2 linked regions of the Homo sapiens genome follow. The protein of the gene in region 1 interacts with the protein of each later gene in a pairwise test. Each region holds a gene or a part of one and is shown on either strand. Other genes may lie near its edges.

What was found.
Region 2: the proteins of TMEM8B (region 1) and CHRM2 interact in a two-hybrid assay, tested with the Homo sapiens proteins (one large-scale study listed by BioGRID and IntAct).

What each region holds. Positions count from the first base shown.
Region 1 is NC_000009.12:35,827,586-35,832,163, forward strand, and holds the start of TMEM8B (transmembrane protein 8B), read left to right. Parts: upstream 1-1,642; 5' UTR 1,643-1,862; coding exon 1,863-2,370; intron 2,371-4,578. UniProt on the Homo sapiens protein: May function as a regulator of the EGFR pathway. Probable tumor suppressor which may function in cell growth, proliferation and adhesion.
Region 2 is NC_000007.14:136,867,088-136,871,656, forward strand, and holds the start of CHRM2 (muscarinic acetylcholine receptor M2), read left to right. Parts: upstream 1-1,564; 5' UTR 1,565-1,905; intron 1,906-1,997; exon of another isoform or gene 1,998-2,086; intron 2,087-2,158; exon of another isoform or gene 2,159-2,173; 5' UTR 2,174-2,331; intron 2,332-4,569. UniProt on the Homo sapiens protein: The muscarinic acetylcholine receptor mediates various cellular responses, including inhibition of adenylate cyclase, breakdown of phosphoinositides and modulation of potassium channels through the action of G proteins.

The sequences.
Region 1 (4,578 bases):
CCCAATCAGGATCTTTCTAAAGTGCAAGCCCAACAACTGGCACTTTGTGGCTTAAAAACATTCCATGACTCAGTCTAAAGGATTAAGTCCAAATTTCTTGGCCCTGGCATTCAAGGCCTGTCATCATTTTCAACACAGCCTGAGGATTCCTGCCTTAACTTTCCGTGCTCCCTACTTTACCCCCATGTTCCAGAGACGCTAGATATATCACTCCTTAAATGCATCAGAGCCTTTTTGAAGGGGATGTTTGGGAAGGGAATTAGGGGCAGAGGTAGGATTACAGGGAGGAAGATGACCAGAGTCAGCTAGAGAGAAAAGGGGCCTAAGAGTGGAGAACCAGAAGATGGGAGGTGAGGAAGGGGAAAGAGAAGGGGAGGAGGAAATTGGGTGGAGGAGGAGAGTAAGGATGAAAAGTACAGAATGTGGGCCAGGCATGGTGGCTCATGCCAGTAATCCCAGAATTTGGGAGGCCAAGGCGGGTGGATCACTTGAGGTCAGGAGTTCGAGACCAGCCTGGCCAACATGGTGAAACCCAGTCTCTACTAAAAATACAAAAATTAGCTGGGCATGGTGGCAGGCGCCTGTAGTCCCAGCTACTGGGGAGGCTGAAGCAAGCAAATCACTTGAACCTGGGAGGCGGAGGTTGCAGTGAGCCCAGATCGCACCACTGCACTCCAGCCTGGGGGACAGAGCGAGACTCTGTCTCAAACAACAACAACAACAACAACAACAACAACAACAACAACAACTACTACTACTACTACTACTACTACTACTACTACTACTACTACTACAACAATGTGAAGGGACTGAGGGGTGGGAGAAAGACAGATGTCTTTGAGGGAAGAGGGCAAGGGCCGTTGGAGAAACCACCTACCCTCTGGGCTTTGGCTTGGTTGTTACAAGTCCTTAGGTCAAGACCTTGACTTAGGATGGCAGGGGGAGGTGTTGATCCTCAGGGAGGAAAGGCTCTTGGTTGTGGATGTGCCTCAGCTGCAGGTGCTGAGTGTTGAAATGCCTTGCCTGAAAGTCTGCTATCTGGGAAGGGGACTTGGATATCTGCAGAACTTCGCAAAGGAGCTCTGGCATGACCTGGGGAAGTGGGTAGGGACAAGGGGTCTAGGGCCAATGAGGGAGGGTCTTGACTGAAGCCTCCGGAACCCGGGCCAGGAGAGTAGGCGCCGGTCACCAGGGCAACCGGAACGCCTAGTAGTCTCCGTGGCAACGGCGGTCTGGTCACCTCCCCGGTGGGTAAGGTCTCCTGAGGGGCTTGCATTGGGCCTCGAGGGGGCGAGCCCAGAGGGTTTACTTCTGAAAAGTGGGGTGTGTGTTGCGGGATCTCTGTGAGCGAGTGTTTGGGTAGGATCTGCGGAGATCTGTGCGTACGTCCGGGGGAGTCTGGGATTGTGAGGATAGGGTTCCTTTGAGACATCTGTGGGGCGGTCGTTGGGGGCTGTGAGGATCTGAGGGGACCTCGGGCTCTGTGCTTGGGGTGAGAAAGGCAGGGTCTCGGGTAGCTGAGGCGGGGGCGGAGTCTGTGTGTCCTCGAAGCCCAGCAGGACTAAGTTGGGGACCAATAGAGTAGGGCGGGGGCGGGCTTTACTGACAGGGACCAATCGAGCCGGCCGGGGGGCGGGGCGTCACGCCGACGTCAAGTCGAGGCCGCCGCCGCGGGGCCTGGTTATCGCCGGTTCAGCGCAGCCCGGAGTCGCCCAGGCCTGAACTCCTACCCAGGTCCCCGGCCCCCGCCCCGGGCCCGCGAGGACACCGGAGGCCACCCCCCGGGGGTGGGGAGCGGAGCCGCGGGCCAGCTCTGCGAGCGCCCCGCGCTGGCCTGTCCGGCCCCGCCCCCGCCCCGGGCCATGGCCCAGCCCTTGTCCCGGCCCCTCGTCCTATCCCAATCCCCGCCTTGGCCCCCAGCCCCGCCCTCGCCCCGCTTCCCACATCGGCCCCAGCCCCTGCCTGGGTCCCCATCCAGGACCCCCTTCCAGTCTCTGCCCCTGGCCTGGCCCCCATCCCGGCCTCGGCCCTCGTTCCACCCCCTGTCACAAATCCCAGCCCAGGCCCTGTCCCAGCCCCATTCCCAGTGTTTGCTTAAGGCCCTGGCTCAACCCCGTCCCTTGCTGCAGTCCCCATCACAGCCCTTCCTTCCATCCCACTCCCTGCCCTTGTTCAAGCCCCAGTGTCCAGCCCAGCCCAACCCATTATCTCAGCCTTTGCCCTCATCTCTGTGTTTACCCAAGTCTCTCCCTCTAGTCCCCCCTATCTCTCATACTCTGCCCCTCTCCCAGCCTAGACTCAAGTCTGGGTTTCAGCTGCCGCCAGCCCTATTGCTGCTGTTGCTGTTCTCTGTCCTTGGCCCAGGGGCTGGTGAGTGCAGAAGCAGGGAAGATTGAGGCAGGAATGGGGTTCCGGCAGGGAGGGGTGGGCTGGAGAGATTCAGGAGAGGTGGGACCTGGGGAACTAGATCATTGGGGAGCAAGTGGGAGAAATAGAGAGTAGAGAGGTCTTACACAACAGGGATTGGCAGGGTCAAAAGAGTGGTAATTAATTGGGTTTGAGGCTCAGCAGGTGGCTTACAGTTTCTAGCACAGAGACTCCAAGATTTTTTCTGGTGTCTGTCCTGACCCCACTTTGACTCTTGCTTTTCCAGGGAAATGTTGTGGGCTTTGCTCCTGCTCACAAAGTTTGATGGGGGAGAGACAGTCCCACACCAGAAGCCCCTAGTGTAGTGTGGGAATATATAGCCCAAACCTTTGAGATATTGGGCATGCATTCAAACGGCATGAAGAAGAGTTTTAAAGATAATATGTAGCAAATAGATGAATATGGATTAGTTGCCATTATAATGAGTTTTCTTCTTGTAATGATTCTTGTTCCAAAGAAGATTGATTTGCCTAGGAATAATTCCTGATACTTTTAGAGCAGGGCTGAAACTCGGAGGCTATTTTACAGATGGGGAAACTGAGGCTCAGGGAGGGAGCAATTTGTCCAAAGTCAGAGAGCTTGTGAATGGCAGTGTGCTGGGGCTAGAAAAAAGGTTTCCTAATTCCTATTTCATACTAGTGTGTTTTTTTTTATCCACTGCAATGTATACTTAATAGAAAAATAGACCCAAGTGGGGAAAGGCTCAAAGCATAACCTCCCTTCTCCCCGGTCTGCCCACAAGGGTGCTTTATCCACAAACTGTTCCTTATTTGCCAGGCGTCAGCCAAGGGCCACCCTCCGGTGGGGAAGTGACTTGGACAGAAGAGAGAGAGGTCCAATTTTTTAATGGTTGGAATGTGGGAGGAGGAGGGGGTGTCCTGGTCTAGGGGATGTGCCATGAAGATGGCTCCATCATGGAGTGACTGTAGTCTTCATGGCCCAAGTCTGTAGCCACCTCTGGTGGGTGTCACTCTAGATAGGATGGAGATGTGCCTGATGGAGTCTTTGGAAATAACAGCCAACAGAACAGCTGGGGGGTGGAGAATGGGTATCAGTGAGCTCTGGGGGCCTGGTTCAGTGTACAAACTTAAGGAGACGAATGCACGTGAAAGGTCACAACCCCTGCAGAGATGTCTGGTCACTTATGTGTATGTGTGTAACTGAGGGATTGTGGGGAGGCTGGCAGCATGTGTACATGCTTGTGTGTTGTTAAGTGTAGACACGTGCATGTGTGTGGGGTGCATGTGAGCCAGTGTATCTTCTGAGCGCCTGTGTTATGGTATGAAGGGGAGGGGACATGTTGTGGCCCATGTACATTCCTCTTCAGCTCTGCCTCCTCCTCATATGGACAGATCACTGAAGCTGTGAATGGGGCTGGAGACCCTTTCTCAGCAGTTCCAAGGGTGAGGGCAGTGTTGCATGCCTCCCATAACGAATATAAGTTATCCATCCATCCCCAGCCAGTGCCTTTGAAGGAAGGAGCTGTGGAGGCACTCTGTGTTGATTACTGCTGCTGGCAAATTGGACACTGGGCAGAGGCAGTAGCCAGTCAGGTTTTCAGTTTTGGTAAGGGGAAGTTTATGCTGTTGGGCCAAGTTCCTAGCTTCCATCCTCTGCCATCATGGCTTCTTCATGTGCCCATTGAGCAAGCATTGGGCTGGTGAGGGGAGCAGGGTGACCGACAGCCACAGAGCATATACAGCTGAAAGTTGTGGATAAAAACACTGTTGCCCAGAAGCAGGTTCAGGTGCTTTGGGGAGAATTGTAATGAAGTTGGAAAAGAGTACCAATACACCCAAATGGAGGCAGGGCTGCCTTTAGTGCTGTTAATAATGAATGCCTTGGCAATTTTGGACCAAAGTACAGGGTGCTCTGTGACCTAATGGTGGTGATGGGTTTTGTCTGAGGAGAGGCTGGCAGTGTCATAGGACCATCATGGCACAGGGCTGCACAGTGCTTATTGGTTGCTTCGGTTTCATTTCAGGAATGGAAGTTATCTCTTGGGTCTAGTGGTCCCACTCCTGATCCTTGGATCTTTTCCTTGGGCTTAGTTGAGGACTCACACGTGCCTTGCTATTCAAAAAAAAATGGGCTTTTATTCTACCTAGTGCTATTACTAGCAGGGCCAGCCTCAGCCTATGTGTGTAGGTG
Region 2 (4,569 bases), on another chromosome or scaffold:
GGACAGTGGTTTTTGCTCTTGTGGATGGCCTTTAATACCTAGCAAAACCCTGGACGTCAAGAACTGAACTGAATTTAATTGACTATATTATATTATATCAATGTATCTTTAACTTGCTCTTTGTCTATCCCTGTGACCCAAAAAGTGATGTGTCCAATTCTGGGCTATTCAATTTAAGGTTTCCACTTCTTGCTCTTTATTTGATTGAAGTTGGATGAGAGAAAATAAAGCCTATGTAATATATAATATATTGATGTTATATTCACATACACATATGCTTTTACAAAAGCAAGTTTTGGCCTAAGCTACACTTTAGAATCCTATCATTGTACTTTTATCAAATGAGGTTAGTATCTAAAAATAATAGATACAATTATTGGCAGAAATTTCTCATTAAAATAAAGAAATAAACATCAAAGGCAGGTCTGAACACAGAAAGTTTGCATCCTAAATCTTTTTTCATGGAGATCACAAATTCCCTGAAGCATCAAACATATATATATTCTGGAGATATATATATATATATATATTTTTTTTTTTGAGAGAGATATATATATATATATTTTTGAGATATATATATATATTTTCTGGATATATATATATTTTCTGGATATATATATATTCTGGACATATATATATTCTGGATATATATATCCTGGACATATATATATATATTCTGGATATATATATCCTGGACATATATATATATATATATTCTGGATATATATATATATATTCTGGATATATATATCCTGGACATATATATATATATATATATATATATATATATATTCTGGATATATATATCCTGGACATATATATATATATATATTCTGGATATATATATATTCTGGATATATATATATATTCTGGATATATATATATATATTCTGGATATATATATATATATTCTGGATATATATATCTATATATTCTGGATATATATATCCTGGACATATATATATATATTCTAGATATATATATTCTGGATATACACATATTCTGAATATAGATATAGATACAGATATAGATATAGATATATTCTGTAGTCTACTGCCCATTAGCTGAAGAAAACATGGTCACTGGCTCATATTTAAAGTAAGAGAAAAAAATTACTTCTCCTTCGGATACATTTGTCAAAGCTCCAAAGAAATAAACAATCTGTGAATAGTTCAGCACAATTATATATTTACAAAGCATAGTGGATTTAGTCTAACATTTTCCCACCTGGAAAAACTGGGCTTAAGTATCTCCGACAAACAAAAAGCAATACTGCGTTCTTCCCAATATGCCATGTCACCTTTGTAGCACTCACACACTTGCAGGGAAGGGACTCGGGGTTGGGGGTGGTTCTGATGTAGAAATTGCAGATGGAGAGCTGGGCTCTGGGGATGGAAATGGAGAGAAGCGAAAAAGAGCCTGGAGAAACGGCTGTCATATTTGCTCAGAAGAACCGCCAAATCAGAGAGCACAGAAGATTTCATTGGAGGAGCGCCTTCAACAGCAACTAATCCTGTCATACTGAAAGAAAATTGTAAATGTTCTCTCCAGAAATTGTCCGCCCATTGCAGCTAATCGAACACACACGCACGAATACAGACACGCTCTCCTGCTGTACTAAAGGCGCCAGGGCGCAAAGACCTAGGGAGCGCGCGCGGGCACACACACACACACACACACACACACAGACACACACACACTCACACACTCCAGGCTGCGGGTTGGCCAGAGCCTGGAAATCGCAGATTTCACCAGGAAATCGCCGAGGTACCCGAATAGGTGTTGCCTCCCAAAACTAATTCCTACTTCCCCAAGCACTTTGGTGAAGAAATGAATCCAGCCCAGCTCGCCGAGGCATCCAGGTCTCCATTCTATTTTGGTCTCCAGGCTCTTCGTGAAAGCCAGGTTTGAAAGTCTTGTTTGCTTCTCCTTTAGTGGTTTGGCGTGGAGGGCGGGGGCAGCGTCAATTTAACTCCAGTCTAAACCACGAACAGGTCACAGACTAGCCAAGTGGCTGAGACGAGTGTGGGGTGCGTGACTCTGCCTGCGCGCGCGCCAGCCCCGCAGCTCTCGCCAGAGCCTTGGGGTCGGTTCTCTCCCGCCTCTCCCGCCTCTCCCGCCCCACCCCTACAGTGTCTCGGCATCAACTAATCTTTTCCTTTTCTTTTGCAAGATCAAGGGAGAAAGAGAACCGGCAGCTGGCCTCGGACTCTAAGCGGTGCGCAGCTCCAGCCCGAGCGGATCGGCCCTGAACCCACAAAGGACTCCTCGCTCCTTCAAGCCTCCACCACCTCGCAGCCGGGGAGGCAACTGGAGCGAAACCAGCGACAGGTAAGGGCCCCGCGCTGTGCAGCTCTCCGCTTACCCACTCCAAGGGCCCTGGCACCAGGGGGTCTCTCCCTTCATATCCCCCCAAGCCGGAGGCTCAGGGGTCGGGGCTTGGGGGAATTGGAGGGAGGTCCTCCCCACGTGCAGATTCTCAAACGGAAACTTTGGATCCTGGGGCTTGGAGGGTTGCGAGCAGTGATGGCGGGTCTGAAAGGAAGGGGCAAACGAGGCACAGCGCGAGGCGAGGTACCCCTACGATTCCGACGGTCACTGAGTCCAGCCGAATGTGGCGAAAGCAGCCTGGGAGCTGCGCTGTCCCGGCGTCGCTCCCTATTCCAGCCCCCCATTCCCTCTACTGTTGCTGACCCCCCTCCCGCCACCCACTCCAGATGCAGCCATGGACAAGACAAGGAGAGCTTCGTCCCTCCCGCCCCTCGGGTTCCTTCCTGCTGGGGTCTGACCGCGTCTTCTGTGCGTGTGGGATGGAGGCCCGGCTCGCTCGGGCTCCGAGCTGTCCCCCGGCTCCGCTTTCGGAGCAGCCCTTGGGCGCTGGAGAGGTTTCCCATTGCGGTCTCCAGGTCATGGCCAAGGAGGAGAAGCAATTAGAATGGGGGAAAGGGTCCCAAGACAAAGGAGAGGGAAGCATTCTGCAATCCCATCCTATTTGAGCCCCGCGCAGGAGCTGGACTGTCCGCCGTGGCTGGGGGACAAGGTCTCAGCCCGAAGCTCATGAGGTACCAGACAGTGCCTGGGCTTCGCCACCTAACTCACAATGGGTCCTGAACCGCCCGGGCAGTCCCCGGGGTCGTAGACTGGGGACCGCTGCACCCCTCCCCGCCCGCAATGTCCCTTGGAGTCCGCACCTGAGGTCCCAGGCAATCGCCGCTAACTTGTAGCTCTCGGACACGGACAGGTGCGGTCCATGCCTGGTGCCGGTAGACGCGCAGAAATTCCACCTGTGCGCGCTGCCCGGCGCCCCTGGGGCCCCTCACGGGGTAAGTAGAGACTCATCTGGGAGAGGTGAAAATTCCCCAGAATTATTGACACACACGGCGGCACACCCTTTGCCTCCGTCCGCCTCCAGCATCCGCATCCCTTTCTCTATCTTCCTGCCCATTGCCGTCCTCGAGGCTGCCCTGAGATACAGAATTGTCCCAGGCTGAGTCCACCGACCCGCCAGTCCCTGGCGATGATGCCAAGGCTCTTGCATGTACGGAAATACCAGCAGGGAGGTTCGCCAGGGGCAGAGAGGCTGGAGGAGAACAGAGAATTGGAGGTAAACGCGTAAAGCCAGCAGAACTGTCGGTGGACATTTCACCCAGGCCGCCCTCCCGCGTCTTTAAGTCAGTTCACCGCCACAGCACGTCTGTGACTGCGGCCACCCAGGGCTCCAAGTCTGCCAGCCCAGGCGCCGCGAGCCAAGAAGAGCGCGGCGCCTCCCACTCCTCAAGCTCCGGAATCCCCCACATCGACTTTCTATTTCCCTGTCTTCTTTTCTTTTTTGTTTGTTTTGCTTTTCCTGCTCTTTTCTTAGCGCTGGGTGGCAGTGGGTATGCGGCAGCCGTGTGATTTGCCCATCCCCTAGTACACGCAGCCAGCGACACAAGCACACAGCGACCAGTCCCCACGCTGTGCCACACACCCTCCAGCGGTCCGGCGCGCAGCCCCTGCTCCACAGCCCGGGACGCCTGCAGCCACCGCCAGGGTCATGGCCATGGCCCACGCAGGGCTCTGCGGGTGGAGAGGGGAAGTCAGCCTAGACTCCAGAGAGAAACCCTGGGGCAACCCGAAAGGCCTGAGGAAAACTGGAATTGGGGTTAGGCATGAGGGGAGGGAGTCTCTGGGGAAAACGGGCCGGGCTGTGCGGAGCCCTGAGGGCTCCTGCGGCTGCAGCGCTGCAGGCCGCCCGCGTCTCGCCCCGCCCCGCCGCTGGGCGTCCCCGCCAGGAGCCCACCCGCGGGCGGCAGCTTTTCTCCATGCTGCCCAGGGAAGTTCGATGCCTGGTGCTGGGATGCGCCAGCGCTTCTGTTCGCTTCTGGCAATCCTGGCGTCTCCCAATGAGAGGGCTCTCAAAATGAAGCTTTTAATAAACTCCAGAGTAAGGAACTCGGGATTGTGCGGCAAAGGCCGCGCATTGCACTTTGTGAGCAATCGGTAAATATGCGCAACCATATGATAGGAAATATATGCATTTTCATTGATAAGAAAAAAAGAGATGATGGTATTTTTAAACAGAAGCCA